2 separate regions of the Homo sapiens genome follow, and region 2 is linked to region 1. A link means that fine-mapping ties the variant in region 1 to the expression of a gene that starts in the linked region. Tissue or cell type: whole blood. Region 1 holds a variant in brackets; the other region holds the start of a gene. All regions are shown on one strand. Distances are from middle to middle.

Region 1 (8,101 bases):
TCACAGGTTAGCAACTTAGCTGGAACCAGCCAAGAATCGTTTAATCCATTGGATGGGTGTGATTCCCCAAAAGGCCACCTGAGGGCACCCTGTGAAAGGCTTCAAGTGTGCTTGGGCGATCTGTCGGAGGCAGTCTTGAGAAAGAAAGCAGATGGGCAGGAGTAAGAAAATGCTTGCCTGTTTCTCCCCTCCCTCTGTCAGTTAAGCCTGGGGGGCACCCGTCCCTGGCCCCTGCCTTGTTTCAAGTACCATCCTCCAGCTGGCCTACCTGCCTTTCCTTCCCCAGCCCTCAGCTGTGGGAAAATTACCATCTTTCTCATGGGGCTGGGCTCTGGGTCCAGAGCCTGTCGGAATGCACAAAGCCAAGCCCATGTCTTAAGTAAATGCCAAAAAGTCCTAGCAGAGTGTGTTCTGCACCCACCAGGGAGCCTGTCTGCCCACCTACTGCAAGGAAGAGAAGGAGGGCTCCTTTCCAGCAGAAGCCTGGGGAGAGGGAGGATGCTCCTGCCCGAGGACATGGGCTGTGGCCCGTTGACAAGGCCTAGAACACCTGGAACTGACTGGGAGACTATTCACTCTCAGCAAGCATTCCCTGAGCATCTGTGACCCCCGAGGCACTGGGACACACACAAGACACAAAAGAGGCCCACCCATGAAGGAGCTTACAGCCTAATCACAAACCAGGGAGGTGTCACATGGGCTAAACAAAAATGACAAATCCTGAGATTCTAAGGTCAAAAGACAATCCAGGTATCATACTAAAAAGATACCAAAGAGGATGGAGTCAGTAGAACCATCTGCAACCAGTGCAGCCACCCAGGGCTGGGACAGTTGTTCGGGAAGCCAGAAGCCAAGAAGTTAGCCTTCTCTTTGCTTTGGTGTCTTAGTTCCCTTGTGCTGCTATATACCATACCACAGACTGAGTGATTTATAAGCAACAGAAATGTATTTCCCACATTTCTGGAGGCTTAGAAGTCCAAGCTCAAGGCACCATCAAGCTTGGTGTCTGGTGAGGGCCCAGTCTCCACTTCCAAGACATTGCCTTGTTGCTGCTCCATCGTGAAGGCTGTGTCTTCACACCGTGGATGGGATGAACTGGCCCCTCACGCCTTTCCATAACATCACTAATCCCATCGTGAGGGCTCTGCCCTCATGACTTAGTCATTCCCTGAAGGCCCCACCTGTTAATACTGTCACAGTGGTGATTAAACTTCAACATGTGAATCTGGCAGGACGTTCAGATCATGGCACTTGGCCTCGTCCTGCTAACCTGTGGCAGGGGGGCAGATGAGGATAGAACCTATCTGGGGCATCCCAGATGGGTGGGGTCTAGGCCTCGCTTCTGGCAGTCAGTAATGCAGGGTCTTGATAAGCCTATAAGCCGCAGCAGCCAGTGGTCAGGGCTGAGGACAATGGAGGGTGACCCATGTGGACTTGATGGCCAGAGGTCATCCCCTCAGATGTAATGGGAAAGGAGCTCCCGAGTGGAATCCGTAGTGGGAAGACAACACTTAGGACCGCATGGCTGGGGCCACGGCAGAGGCACAGAGCAGAGTGCTCTCTGCAGCAGAAGGCCCACAAGAGATGGCGTCCAAGGAGTAGCATCGCTCCCCAGCCATGCTTCCCTGGGATTTGGGCAAGCCTCCCTGCACACCAAACATGAGCCTCAGGGCGGGCTGGAGGAGGGGGTTTCCGGTTCTTCTGCCTCTCCTGGGTCTGACCTCGTCGTTGTCATTGCCCAGGTGGCATCCAAGGCTCTGCTGTCTGTCCACAGCATCCGGACCTCTCATCTGTCTACACCCATTGCTTCAGGCTTGGTCCCTCCGCCGTCAGTAATGTCCAGCTTCACTCAGGCCGCTCACCTGCGCTTTACATTCCAACATCTGCTGTGAGTGTGTCCTCTCTGGGCAGCCCCCCACCCTCCCTCACTCCCCAGGGGCTCCTCCTCTGACCCTGTGCGCTTCCTCCATGCTTCCCCCACAGTTAGGGGCACCACCATCCATCCAGTCACCTGGGAATGATCCCAGGGTCAGGTGATCTGAGGATGGAGAATTGACCACTGAGCTTGGTGGCGAGGCTGGTGCCCTTGACCTGACTTGATTAACTGGCTGTGGCTCCAGCTTGGAGAATCCCTAAAGCCAGTGAGCCTGGTGGAAGGACTGCTAGGAGGCAGAGCAAGCATTCCAGGTGGGAGTGGAGCACTCCTGGTGCCAGGCCATGCTGAGGGAGGGGTGGGTGTTATTCTAGGAGCCAAGAGGATTTTAAGCCTGGTGTCCTAGCTGACCTCCCGCCCCACACCTACCCAGGATCCTCAGGCAGGGCTCTCCATGCCTCATTCTCACCCCAGCTCGGCCTGTGTGTCTGCCCACCTGGGCCTCCCATCCACTCTGTCAAGTTGGTGACTGTGTCCCTGCCTTGTGGAGTCCTCTCAAGGTCTTGTGGGGACCTTGTCCAAGAGGTTTTTAATAAATATTTGTGGGGAGACCAAACCAAGAAGAAATGAGTGGATTAATCACAGGGCTCTAGGCCGGGCACAGTGGCTCATGCCTGTAATCCCAGCACTTTGGGAGGCCGAGGCGGGCAGATCACGAGGTCAGGAGATTGAGACCGTCCTGGCCAACATGGTGAAACCTTGTCTCTACTAAAAATACAAAAATTAGCTAGGCGTGGTGGCATGCGCCTGTAGTCCCAGCTACTTGGGAGGCTGAGGCAGGAGACCTGCTTGAACCTGGGAGGTGGAAGTTGCGGTGAGCCAAGATCATGCCACTGCACTCCAGCCTGGCGACAGAGCAAGGCTCTGTCTCAAAAAAAAAAAAAAAAAAAATCAGAGGGCTCTAGACTAGAAGAGTCCTTAGGGAGATGTTCTACATGTTTTGCTTGAGGCCCTGAAAGGAGAAGCAGCTGGCTTAGGGGGACACATAGTTTAGTGGTCAGAGGGGCACAGGAGAGCAGAACTCATAGACCAACACGGTCCACAAGCGTCCTTCTGAAACGCAGTTCTAACCATGTCACTTTCAGGTCCCAACAGTCAGCTGGCCTCCTTTGCCCAGCAGCAGTGTTTACATGAGGTCTGTGGACCCTGTTATGGACTGAATTATGCCCTGCTCCACCCAAATCCATACATTGAAGCCCTAGCCCCCAATGTGACCATATTTGGAAATAGGTCCTTTAAAGAGGTAATTAAGGCACGCTTTTCATCTGTCCCGCTGAGTGTTTGCCTCTTGATCAGGAACTCCTGCTTCTCCCTGCCTCTAAATGGACCCCAACTGCTCCTGCTCGCCTGATGGTTCCTGCGCCTGTGCCGGCTCCTGCAAATGAAAAGAGTGCACATGCACCTCCTGCAAGAAGAGCTGCTGCTCCTGCTGCCCTGTGGGCTGTGCCAAGTGTGCCCAGGGCTGCATCTGCAAAGGGACGTCGGACAACTGCAGCTGCTGTGCCTGATGCCAGGACAGCCCTGCTCTCAGATGTAAATAGAGCAACCTTATAAACCTGGATTTTTTTGGTACAACCCTGACCCATTTGCTACATCTTTTTTTCTATGAAATATGTGAATGGCAATAAATTCATCTAGACTAAAAAAAAAAAAAAAAAAAAAGGTAATGAAGGGTGAGCATGGTGACTGATGACTGTAATCCCAGCACTTTCAGAGGCCAAGGCAGGCAGATCACTTGAGGCCAGGAGTTTGAGACAAGCCTGGGCAACAAGGCAAAACCGTACCTCTAAAAAAATACAAAAGAAAAAGTCCGGGCATGGTGGCTAATGCCTGTAATCCCAGCACTTTGGGAGGCCAAGGCGGGCGGATCACCCGAGGTCAGGAGTTCAAGACCAGCCTGGCCAACATGGTAGAACCCCGTCTCTACTAAAAATACAAAAATTAGCTGGGTGTGGTGGCAGGCGCCTGTAATCCCAGCTACTTGGGAGGCTGAGGCAGGAGAATCACTTGAACCTGGGAGATGGAGGTTGCAGTGAGCAAAGATCGCGCCATTGCACTCCAGCCTGGGGCACAAGAGCGAGACTTTGTCTCAAACAAACAAACAAAAATACAAAAAAAAAAAAAATTAGCCAGGCGTGCTGATATGCACCTGTAGTCCTAGCTCCCCTCGGGGCTGAGGCAGGAGGATTGCTTGAGCCTGAGGAGGTCGTGGCTGCAGTGAGCTGAGATCACACCACTGCCCTCTAGCCTGGGTGACAGAGTGAGGCCCTGTCTCAAAAAATAAAAGAAAAAGGTAATCAAGGTTAAATGAGACCATAAGCATGGAGCCCTAATCCAGTAGGACTAATGTCCTATTTGTAACAGAGGAAGAGACACCAGACATGTATAAGCACAGAGAAGAGGCCATCTGTAAGCCAGGAAGAGAGGCCCCACCCAGAAACCAACTCTGCTGGCACCTTGATCTTGGACTTCCAGCCTCTAGAACTATGAGAAAATAAATTTCTGTTGTTTAGAGTACCCAGACTGTGGTATTTTTGTTACAGCAGCCTGGGCTGACTCATATAGACCCCAACTTCAGAACTGCCTAGTGCTTTTGTCAAATCTGCAGGCTCACAGACCTACCCAGCCCCTGACACAGAATGTCGGGGTTGGATGTGTGAACCCCAAATATCTGAGACAGGTC[A/G]CAGTCAATTTAGAAAGTTTATTTTGCCAAGGTTAAGGATGTGCCCGTGACAGCCTCAGGAAATCCTGAGACATATACCCAAGGTGGTCAGGGGTACAGTTTGCATTTAAGTTTTAGGGAGACATGAGACCTCAATCAATATGTGTAAGATGTACATTGGTTTGGTCTGGTAAGACAGGACAGCTTGAAGCAGGGGCTTCCAGGTTAGAAATACATAAGAGACAAGGCCAGGTGCAGTGGCTCATGCCTATAATCCCAGCACTTTGGAAGGCTGAGGTGGGCGGATCATGAGGTCAGGAGATCCAGACCATCCTGGCCAACATGGTGAAACCCCGTCTCTACTAAAATACAACAACAACAAAAATTAGCCGGACATGGTGGGGCATGCCTATAGTCCCAGCTACCTGGGAGGCTGAGGCAGGGGAATCACTTGAACCTCAGAGGCAGAGGTTGCAGTGAGCCGAGATTGTGCCACTGCACTCCAGCCTGGGCGACAGAGTGAGACTCTGTCTCAAAAAAAAAAAAAGTAGATAGGAGACAAAAGATTGCATTCTTTTGAGTCCTTGATCAGCCTTCCACTGAATACATAATTTTATTTATTCAGCTCTGTCACCCAGGCTGGAGTGCAGTGATATGATTCTGCTCACTGCAACCTCCACCTCCCAGGTTCAAGCGATTCTTCTGCCTCAACCTCCAGAGTAGCTGGGATTACAGGCGCCTGCCATCACAGCCAGATAATTTTTGTATTTTTAGTAGAGACAGGGTTCACCATGTTGGCCAGGCTGGTCTTGAACTCCTGACCTCGGGTGATTTGCCCGCCTCAGCCTCCCAAAGTGCTGGGATTACAGGCGTGAGCCACCGCGCCCAGCCATTTTTTTGTATATTTTTAGGGATAAGGTTTTGCCATGTTACCCAGGCTGGTCTCAAACTCCTGACCTCAAGTGGTCCACCAGCTTCAGCCTCCCAAAGTGCTGGGATTACAGGCGTGAGCCACCGCACATGGCCCCAAGAGGACTTTACATCTTCTCTGGGTTGCAGATTAACAGGCACGTTCATTCTGCCAAGTTGCTTCATTTTCTCACACGCTCACTGAGCCCTCCACGAGCCAAAGATGGGTGGATGTGAAGTCTGGAAATCCAGAAATAATTCAGATCAGAGCCCTGCCACTGAGTGACTCCTGGCCCATGGAGAGAGCTCTGGACAGCTGTGAATCTCCCTGACTGGGCAGATGTGACAGCTGCAGGAATGGGAACCATGTGACCTGGGAGTATGGGCAAAGGATTCCACCTGCAGAATCCTGTAGGAATGGTTATTCATCTGGTTTTTCTGCCTAGCCACAGCGTGAGCAAGTTGAGAGAAAGCACCTTGTCTTACACATCCTCATCCCCTCTCTTAGACATAATGGGCCTTAAAAATCTGTGAGTTCGTAGTCCTCTGGCTGCTTTCTGCTTCCCTAGGAACAGCCCTCCTAGTGGCTAGGGGCAAAGTTTTAAAAACACAAAACCCAAACTGGCAGAACAGATAAGTACTTTAGAGTCAGGTAAGTGTGGGTTCTTTTTTTTTTTTTTTTTTTTTTTTTGACAGGGCCTAGCTCTGTCACTCAGGCTGAAGTGCAGTGGCATGATCTCGGCTCACTGCAACCTCCATTTCCCGGGCTCAAGCAATCCTCTCATCTCAGCCTCCAAGTAGCTGGGACTACAGGCGTGCACTACTGTGCCCGGCTAATTTTTGTATTTTTTTTTTTGTAGAGGCAGGGTCTTACTATGTTGCCCAGGTTGGTCTCAAACTCCTGAGCTTAAGCAATCTGCCCGCCTCAGCTTCCCAAAGTGCTGGGATTACAGGCGTGAGCCACCACACCCAGCCAGCTGTGGGTTCTGAGTCGGTTTCACACTGACTAGCTGTGCGGTGTGACCTCAGACAAGTCACGTTATGTTTCTGAGAGTCTTCGTCAGTACAAGAGGGTAATACTATTTACACAGGTTTGTTTATAGAATTAAATCAGGTGACCCCTGTAAAGTCCCCACTGTCTGGCACTTGGGTGGCCTTAGGTAAAGCTTAACTCCTAAATTATTCCTTTCAAAACAGTGATTTGCCCTACTTGAAGGCATTGCGGAAAGATAATGGTAAAAATTAAATGTAATAGACAAACTCTCAGTAATGACCCACCTGCACTCTTTCCAACCAGTGGGCATTTACTGAGCACCCACCTTCTGGGTAACAGGCCTGGTGTCCAGTGCTGGAACGGTGGAGAGGAGCTCAGAGTTTCAGAGCTGAAAAGTCAGCTCCAGGAGAGCAGGGACTTCTTGTTGGCCACTGTATTCCCAGCTAGGTGCTCAGTATTTGTTGAATGAATGAATGAATGAAAAATACAATCCAGCGGGCCTCTGACTCATTTTTTAAAACTTGAGCCAAGTCCCTTGACCTCTCTGAGCTGGTGTGTGTCCCCATCAGTGAAGCCAGAGATGTTTAAGTCATCTAGAGGTCCTGCCAAGCAGGATTAATAGAGCAATAATATTAATAATAGCAACAATCATAACTAAACATATGGAGCACTGCTATGGAGGGAATAACATGTTACGTCCACGTTATAGAAGAGGAAACTGAGACACAGAGAAGCATGAAAGGCTCCTGGAGGGGGGGTTTCATGATGTTTTGGAAGAAAGACTAGGGATCGGACGGAGTCATAGAGAAGAGGATCCACAACCCAGAGGAAAAGGCCTAGTCCAGAGCCACCGCGCGGCGCAGGCTGCGGACGTTGTAGGAGGGACGAACGCCTCCCGGAACCCGCCCAACCCAACCTCCGGCGTCTCCATGGCAACAACCTCCGCACATGCGCCGCGCGCACCTGCGCCGGAGCTGCCAGCACGCGCAGAAGGCGGACGCAGGCGGGGCGGAAGTGGGCCCGGCGGGCTGGGGCGGCGGGAGTGCGGGTGGGCGTTTAAAGGGGCCTTCGGCACCCAGGTCGGTTCGCCGCCGGGACTGCTGACGGGGAGGGCTAGGTAGCCCTGGGAGTCGGGATCTAGAAGGTAGAGGAGAAGCGGGGCTGTCTGACCCCCGGAGGTGACAAGGGGAGAGGGGCTGTGTGAATACCCTCCATGGGCAGTAATGGGATGACTATCCCCAGGGAGCATTGCGAAGGAGAGAGGCGGCTGAGGGACTGCACTTTCTGGGGCCCCCCGGGAGAGTCAGAGGGCAGTTAAGAGGGATCACAGGCCCGGCTTGGTACTGTCACTCCCCTTCCCACTCCCTGCTCTCAGCATTCTGTCACCTCCCTACCCCGTCGCGGTGCCCAGCCATGGCCAGACCTCCCGTGCCCGGTTCGGTGGTTGTCCCAAACTGGCACGAGAGTGCCGAGGGCAAGGAGTACCTGGCTTGCATTCTGCGCAAGAACCGCCGGCGGGTGTTTGGTAAGTGCCTCCCCCTTTCCTCTAGCCCGCCACTTGTCTTTCCCTGGGGAGAAGAGTGTCACCTGTTGCTCCCTGAGG
Region 2 (8,101 bases), 220 kb before region 1:
AGCTCTGCCACTTACCAACCATGTGACTTTGAACAAATTATATAATTTCTCTGCATTTCTCATTTTCGAAACAGGGATGAGTACTGCTATAAACATTTGTGTCCACCCCCACCTCCAAATTCATACTGAAACCTAACCCCTAGTATGATGGTATTTGGAGGTGAGTTCTTTGGAAGGTAATTATGTCATAAGCGTAGAGCCCTCACAAACAGTATTGCCCTTATAAGGAAGCCCCAGCCAGGTGTGGTGGCTCACGCCTATAATCCCAGCACTTTGGGAGGCTGAGGCAGGTGGATCATGAGGTCAGGAGTTTGAGACCAGCCTGGCCAATAAGGCAAAACACCATCTTGACTAAAAATACAAAAATTAGCTGGGCGTGGTGGCATGTGCCTGTAGTCCCAGCTACTTGGGAGGCTAAGGCAGGAGAATTGCTTGAACCCAACAGGCAGAGGTTATAGTGAGCCAAGATCACACTCCAGCCTGGGCAATAAGAGCAAAACTATCTTTAAAAAAAAAAAAGGCAGTGCCATTCCCATGTGGTGGCTCATGCCTTTAAGCCCAGCACTTTGGGCGGCCAAAGCAGGAGGATCACTTGAGGCCAGGAGTTTGAGATCAGCCTGGTCAATATAGCAAGACTCCATCTCTTAAAAAAAAAAAAAAAAAAAAAAAAAAGTCCCCAGAGTACTCTATTGCCCCTTCTACCATGTGAGGTTACAGCAAAAAGACGGCCTCACCAGACACCGAATCTGCTGGTGCCTTGGACTTCCCAGCCTCCAGAACTGTGAGCAAAAAATTTCTTTTGTTTATAAACTACCCAGGCTATGTTATTCTGTCATAGTCCCAAATAGACTAAAACAAGTACTTACTGGCCAGGTGCGGTGGCTCACACTTGTAATCCCAGCATTTTAGGAGGCCAAGGCAGGCTGATCACTTGAGGTCAGGAATTTGAGACCAGCCTGGCCAACATGATGAAACCCCGTCTCTACTAAAAATCAAAAAAATTAGCCGGAAGTACTGGCACACGTCTGTAATCACAACTACTCGGAGGCTGAGGCAGAAGAACTGCTTGAACGCAGGAGGCAGAGGTTGCAGTGAGCTGAGATCATGCCACTGCATTCCAGCCTGGGCCACAGAGCGAGACTGTCTCAAAACACAAAAAAAACAAGTCCTTACCTCATGGGGTTGTAGAGATGATGCAATGAGTTTTATAAGTGCATAGAATAGTGCCTAGCAGAGAGTTAAGCATTACTTTAGCAATAAACAATAAGCATTACTTAAAGGCAACAGGAAGGCCCAAAGGAGCATCATAAGGGACCTCCCAAGGCCCTACAGCTATTAAGTCTATCCAGATTCTCTCTTTTCCACACTGATTCCCACCTCAAACACACTTTGCTAACCTTTGTGTTGGTTATCTATTGCTGCATAACCTTACCAGAAACTTAGCGACTTAACACAATACATTTACCATCTGTTCCTATGGGACAGTCTGGGCACAGCTTAGCTGGTCCTCTGCAAGGCTGCAGTCAGTGTTGGTCAGGCCTGGGGTCTCACCTGAAGGCTTACCTGGGAGTGATCAGCCTCCAAGCTTGTGTGGTTGCTGGCAGCATTTGCTTTCTTGCAGACTGCTGGACTGAGCTTCAGTTTCTTGTTGGCTGTCAGAGGCTACCTCAGTTCCTAGCCACCTGACCCTCTCCCAAGGGCAGCTCACACAACATGACAGCTTCCTTCTTCAAAGCCAGCAAGAGAATTTCTCAGCAAGGCAGATGTTGCAGTCTTACATAAGGCAACCATGAAAATAACATCTTGTCACCTTTGTGGCACTCTACTGGTTAGCAGTCACAGGTCTAGGCCATCTCAAGGGGCAGGGAGTACATAAGGCTGTGAACAGCAGGTGGGGATCACAGTGACCACCTGGGAGTCTATCTGCCACACCTCCCAGTGCATCCAAATTCTGTTGTGCAGAGGGCAAGTGAGGTCTAGCATACCCCCCAAGAAAGCAGCCATCTTCTACCATCCACCCACCAGTTTGTAAACTCCAGTCAGGGGTGTAATTGAAGTGATGCCTGGTTTGGGATTGAGTTTTCCTGGAGATTCTGGTCCTGTAATGAGTTTTTTCCAGCTGGGATTCCAGTTAGTGATGGACAGCATCAAGCTGTCCCTTGCTCCTGGCCCCAGACCCCACAAGGTGCTTTTCAGGCTAGATTCCTGAGGGCTGTGTCATCAGCTGTGCCACCTCCTCCTCCCTACCATGATGAACTGTTCTGGGTACTTACCTGACTCCAGAGAAAGGTCATTAAGGTCAAACAATGCAATGTGCATCTGCTAGTGCCTCATCCGAGTGACGCTCAGGTGAAGGAACAGCCTGTGGCCACACGTCTAACCAGGGGATAGCCTAGATCCTAAGGCCAGGTCTGTCTCCACAATCCAAGTGCTGATCTTCAATGGTACATACTTTTTTTTTTTTTCCTTTTGAGACAGTCTTGCTCTGTTGCCCAGGCTAGAGTACAGTGGCATGATCTCAGCTCACTGCAACCTCCACTTCCTGGAGGCAATTCTCATGCCTCAGCTTCTCAAGTAGCTGGGATTACAGGCGTGCGCCACCATGCCTGGCTAATTGTTGTATTTTTAGTAGACGGGGTTTCACCATGTTCGCCAGGCTGGTCTCGAACTCCTAACCTCAAGTAAGCCACCCACTTCGGCCTCCCAAAGTGCTGGGATTGTGGGCATGAGCCACCACACCCAGCCATGGTACACACTTCTAATAAAGCTTCCTCTACATCTAAGCTTTCTGATTTCCACCCTCCAAGTACTTAAAACTGACTCGATGTGAAGTAATGCTATGTGAAATCGACATAAAAAAGTTACTGCTCCCGAAGATCCTTTAATGCAATCTCCTTACCCTTAATTCAATGGGCAAGAGAATCTTCAATTTTCATTTTCTTTCTCCTCTCTACAGTTTCTTAATCAGAGTGGCTATTTCCATAACAATAAAAACTGCTTCTTACAGAATCCTCAGGCAAAAGAAGTGTTGTGGCTTTTTTTCATTTTTAATTCTTTTAGAGAATTCTCTAGGGTCTCACTGCTGCCTAGACTGGAGTGCGAGGCCGTGATCATAGCTCACTGCAGCCTCAAACTCCTGGGCTCAAGCAATTCTCCCACCTCAGCCTCGCAAGTAGTTAGGATTCCAAGCATGCACCACCACCACACTAATTTTTTTTTTTTTTTTTTTTTTTAAGAAATGGGGTCTAACAGCCGGGTGCCGTGGCTCACGCCTATAATCCCAGCACTTTGGGAGGCCAAGGCGGGCAGATAACTTGAGGTCAGGAGTTTGAGACCAGCCTGGCCAGCATGGTGAAACCCCATCTCTACTGAAAAAATACAAAAATTAGCTCGGTGTGGTAGGTGCCTGTAATCTCAGCTACTGGAAAGGTTGAGGTAGGAGAATCACTTTAACCTGGGAGGCGGAGGTTGTAGTGACCAAGATTGCTCCACTGCACTCCAGCCAGGGCAACAGACTGAGACTGTGTCTCAAAAAAAAGGAAAGAAATGCATCTTACTATGTTGCCCAGGCTGGTCCCAAACTCCCAGCCTCAAATGATCCTCCCGTCTTGGCCTCTCAAAGTGCTGGGATTACAGGCGTGAGCCACTGCACCCGGCCTCTTAATTTTACTTTTGACCTCTGGGTATCTGCACCCCTTTACTACTTAGGGAGATGCTCTGCCGGTAGGTTTGGTGGAAGACGGAAAGCAAGGGGCCAGGCTCTCTAGAACGGCCTGTATCATGAGACGCCACAAGAGAATTAAGCCCCACACAAAGTGATTCAAGCAACTACTTTCACATCAACCAAAGGATGATGAAAAGACTGTACTATCCTAGAGAACACAGGAGAGAAGGTACCGATTGCCTTAGACAACAAGGTTGCATTTCCTCACTTTGGCCAGCCTCACACCCCAGCCCTGAACTTTCAATCTGGACACTTGGTCAGTGGTGAGAGAAGTGGCCGTGAGTCTAGCTGTGGCACCCTGAAGAGTTTAACAGCCACGCGGCCAGAAACACATTCATCTTTCACATACAATGACAGAAGTAAAAATATTTATTTTATCTTAAAAATCTGGTCCCGCAAAAAGGCCAACACTTTTTTCAGTTCACGGTCTTGACCTTTCAAAGAAGAAATCTTTCAACTGAGAGGTGAGTTAATAAAAGGAATGTCAGAGGTGCTTTCAGATTTCTTATAAACCAGTAAACCAAGCAACCCTGGACTTCTAGTTTACTGAGCTCCTTCTTCTAGCCATTCACAGTTCCTGAAGGAGAAAAGAAGTTGTTTGCAGATAAGGCACTTTAGAAACCACCAAAGAGAAAACCCAAGTCTGCCAGGAGCTGCACTGTGAACATGTGAGCCGAGAGGGCCACCAGCAGACAGAGTGCCAACTCCCACAGCTCCATGACAACAGCATCCACCTTCCTGCCCCAACACTGTTCCGTCTGGCTTCCAGCACCCGCCTTGGCTCTGTGTTGCCTACCTGGCCTAGAATACATGGAAACCAGACAACTGGCCAGAGATAAACACTGCTGCCTGAAGCTCAGGGCAGCTGCCCACAGTGAGGAATCCCTTCAGAGGCCCCAGCTGGGGCACGCCGAGGGAGCAGTTCCTTTTGCAAAGATGAGTTAGTGCGGATCAGCACATTAGCAAAGCAAAATATTTAAACATTTTTAAAAGCTGCTAATCCTTCCAATTTCCCTCCTGATTGTAGCTCAAGCTGCAGCCTCTAAACCTGCTAAAAATCAGGAAGAAACCCCTCCTCTGGAGGGCAGATGGACTGAAGTGGCTACAGCCAGTGTGGGTACGGAAAGCCTCCCGCTGAACTGTGATCATGTGACACCTGCAGACCCTGGGAAGGGCTGATCTGAATCCTGGCAGCAAACTCAACCTCTTCTTTTGCTTGGGGGGCTTGTGTTTAATACAGGTCATTGCGATGGAAGAAGTCTCAGAGTCTCTCTCACATCAAGAGGACAGATGGGGACAGGGATCCTGGAGCTTTTCTTCTCCTGTGTTCTGGTTGCATACTTGAATCCCAGGAAACAGTGTGACACGGTGCCAATTTACTGCCAAACATGCCCGGTTTGTCAACAGAGCCAGACAAGGAGGAGAGGAGAGATTCATGCCCCAAACACAGGCCAGCTGAGGAGGGCTTCGTCCTCCTTCCTTTGGCCCAGATGAGGGAGCGCCTTCCCAGAAGTCACATGAGGAAAAACCGTGCTCAGGTCAGAACTGGACCCAGCCTGTGCCTGGCTGGGTCTGGCTGGAAGTTGATCTGTAAAGAGAAGACAGGGAAGGGTGGGGGAGTTCAGATCTTTGAAAATACAAAGCAGATAAAAGTTGGTTTCTCTCTGGACAGAAAAAGCTCTAAGAAGCCAGTTCCTAAATGTTCTAGAGCAGCAGTCAGCAAACTCTGGCACAGAGACCAAATCTGGCCCTCGATGGTTTTTTTTTTTTAAATAGTTAATGTAACTGTATTTACCAAAGTTTTTTGTTTGTGGTTTTGTTTTTTGTTTTGTTTTTTTTTTGAGACAGGGTCTCACTGTCGCCCAGGCTGGAATGCAGTGGCACACTCAAGGCCAACTATAGCCTCAACCTCTTGAGCTCAAGCGATCCTCCTACCTCAGCCTCCCTAGTAGCTGGAACTACATGACCGGTTAATTTTTGTATTTCTTTTAGTAGACACAGGGTTTTGCCATGTTGCCCAGGCTGGTCTCGAACTCCTGGCCTCAAGTGATCTGCCTGCTTTGGCCTCCCAAAGTGCTGGGATTACAGGCGTGAGCCAACATGCCTGGCCGAAGAGTCTTAACCCCTTTCCCATGTAGAAAAAATATAGCTCACTGCCAGCCCTCATTTAATTTTACATAAACATGCTCTTTGAGGCTGAAGCAAATCTGACTGATTTTCAACGTGAAAATAAAATATAAAAACTGTTCTTGGAGTTATTTCAGAATCATCTGAATAATCAGAACTATTTTGGAAAAATCAGACTCCTCAAATGAATCTTAGGCTAAAAACTGTTCAAGAACGATGTTAACATCACATGTAAGAATGCTGCGTTTTCTAGGATTTGACTTTTTCAGTAATCAATAATTACTATATTTTGGGCCAGGCATGGTAGTTCACGCCTGTAATCCCAGCACTCTGGGAGGCTGAGGTAGGCGGACTGCTGGATTCCAGGAGTTCCAGACCAGCCTGGGCAACATAGCAAAACCCCGCCTCTACTAAAAATACAAAAAATTAGCCGGGTGTGGTGGCAATTGCCTGTAGTCCCAGCTACTCAGGAGGCTAAGGGATAATCACCTGAGCCTGGAAGGTCAAGGATGCAGTGAGCCGACATCACGCCACTGCACTCCAGCCTAGGCAACCAGAGTGAAACCTTGTCTCAAAAAAAAAAAAAAAAAAAAAACAGAATTACTATATTTTGTAAATGGAAATACCACTATTAAAAACAGAATGCTATAAATAGAATGTCTTTTGTTCCAAAGCTGATATACTAGAGCGATGCAAAAATAATATAAAAGCAATACATTTTGTGGCAAAGTTATCTCAGGGTCAACGCTGCAGTCTGAAGTGCCACTGGCAAGTTTTCTCAGGGCAAACAGGAAAAGGGTTACAGTCCTCATTTCACGCCTCTGTTTTTTTTGTTTGTTTATTTGTTTTTTGAGATGGAGTCTTGCTCTTGTGACCCAGGCTGGACTAGAGTGGCATGATGTCAGCTGACTGCAATCTCCCGGGTTCAAGCAATTCTCGTGCCTCAGCCTCCCAAGTAGCTGGGATTACAGGCACCACCCCACCACGCCCAACTAATTTTTGTGTATTTAGTAGAGATGGGGTTTGACCATGTTGGCCAGGCTGGTCTTGAACTCCTGACCTCAGGTGATCCGCCTGCCTGGGAATCCCAAAGTGCTGGGATTACAGGCATGAGCCACCGCGCCCAGCCCATGCCTCTATTTTTGTAAATAAAATTTTACTGGCACACAGCCATGCTGATTTATTTACATATTGTCTGTGGCTGCTTTTGTGCAACAAGAGCAGAACTGAGTAGCTAGAACGAAGACCACACGGCCTGAATAGTCTAAACTATTTGCTATCTAGTCCTTTACAGAAAATGTGGCTGGGCACACTGGCTCGTGCCTATAATCCCAGCACTCTGGGAGGCCGAGGCAGGCAGATCGCTTGAGCCCAGGAGTTCAAGGCCAGCCTGCGCAACATGGCAAAACCCCGTATCTATGAAAAAATACAAAAAATAGCTGGCATGGTGATGTGCACCTGTAGAGCCAGCAACATGGGAGAATGTGGTTGCAGTAAGCCGTGATAGTGCCACTGCACTCCAGCCTGGGTGACAGAGAGAGACCCTGTCTCAAAACATGAAAAGAAAAAGAAAATGTGTGCTGACCCCTGTCCTAGAATCTGTCCATGTAAATAATAGTGCAGTAGGAATTTAGTATCTTTTCACCCTGGCCCCAAGTAAAGTCTTGAGATCTTATGGAATCAGAGAAGACAAGCCACCTAGCCTCAGGCGTTCTATGAGGATGGGCTGAGGCTGGAGCCTGGGTCTGAACTCTCAGTCCACTATTTTGGGGAAGGTGGGGGATGGGGTATAGAAGAAGGAGGTACTGGGGACAAGCCAAAGCACTTGGGAAGGCGGTTTAAAGGCCCAGATTTGCAAAGGGTTGCCCCAGGCTATATAGCACTGGAAAGCAGCAAAACCTCCACGGAAAGACGTGTGCCACCCAAAGCAGGCACGCTGGGGCTCTGTCCTCTGGCTAGCTTGAAAACATCCAAATCAGGCCAGGCGCGGTGGCTCATGCCTGTAATCCCAGTACTTTGGGAGGACGAGGCAGGTGGATCGCCTGAGGTCAGGAGTTCAAGACAACCCTGACGAACATGGTAAAACCCCATCTCTACTAAAAATATAAAAAATTAGCCAGGCGTGGTGGCAGGTGCCTGTAATCCCAGCTACTCAGGAGGCTGAGGCAGGAGAATAGCTTGAACCTGGGAGGCAGAGGTTGCAGCGAGCCAAGATCATGCCATTGCACTCCAGCCTGGGCAACAAGAGCA

Evidence for each region. PIP is the estimated chance that this variant, and not a neighbour inherited with it, causes the effect.
Region 2: LINC01772 starts here. The variant in region 1 is fine-mapped to the expression of LINC01772 in whole blood (INTERVAL, PIP above 0.99).

The regions. Positions count from the first base shown.
Region 1 is chr1:16,236,553-16,244,653 of GRCh38, reverse strand. CPLANE2 (ciliogenesis and planar polarity effector complex subunit 2) reads left to right here and starts at 7,471. Exons shown (of 5, transcript NM_030907.4): 1 at 7,471-8,023. The coding sequence starts at 7,912. It also overlaps the pseudogene MT1XP1. RefSeq lists a silencer at 7,414-7,593 and an enhancer at 7,434-7,978. The variant A/G (reference allele first, on the strand shown) is at 4,617.
Region 2 is chr1:16,456,053-16,464,153 of GRCh38, reverse strand. LINC01772 (long intergenic non-protein coding RNA 1772) reads right to left here and starts at 3,206. Exons shown (of 2, transcript NR_147210.1): 1 at 867-3,206. NECAP2 (NECAP endocytosis associated 2) reads right to left here. Exons shown (of 8, transcript NM_018090.5): 8 at 4,076-5,312. The coding sequence ends at 5,264.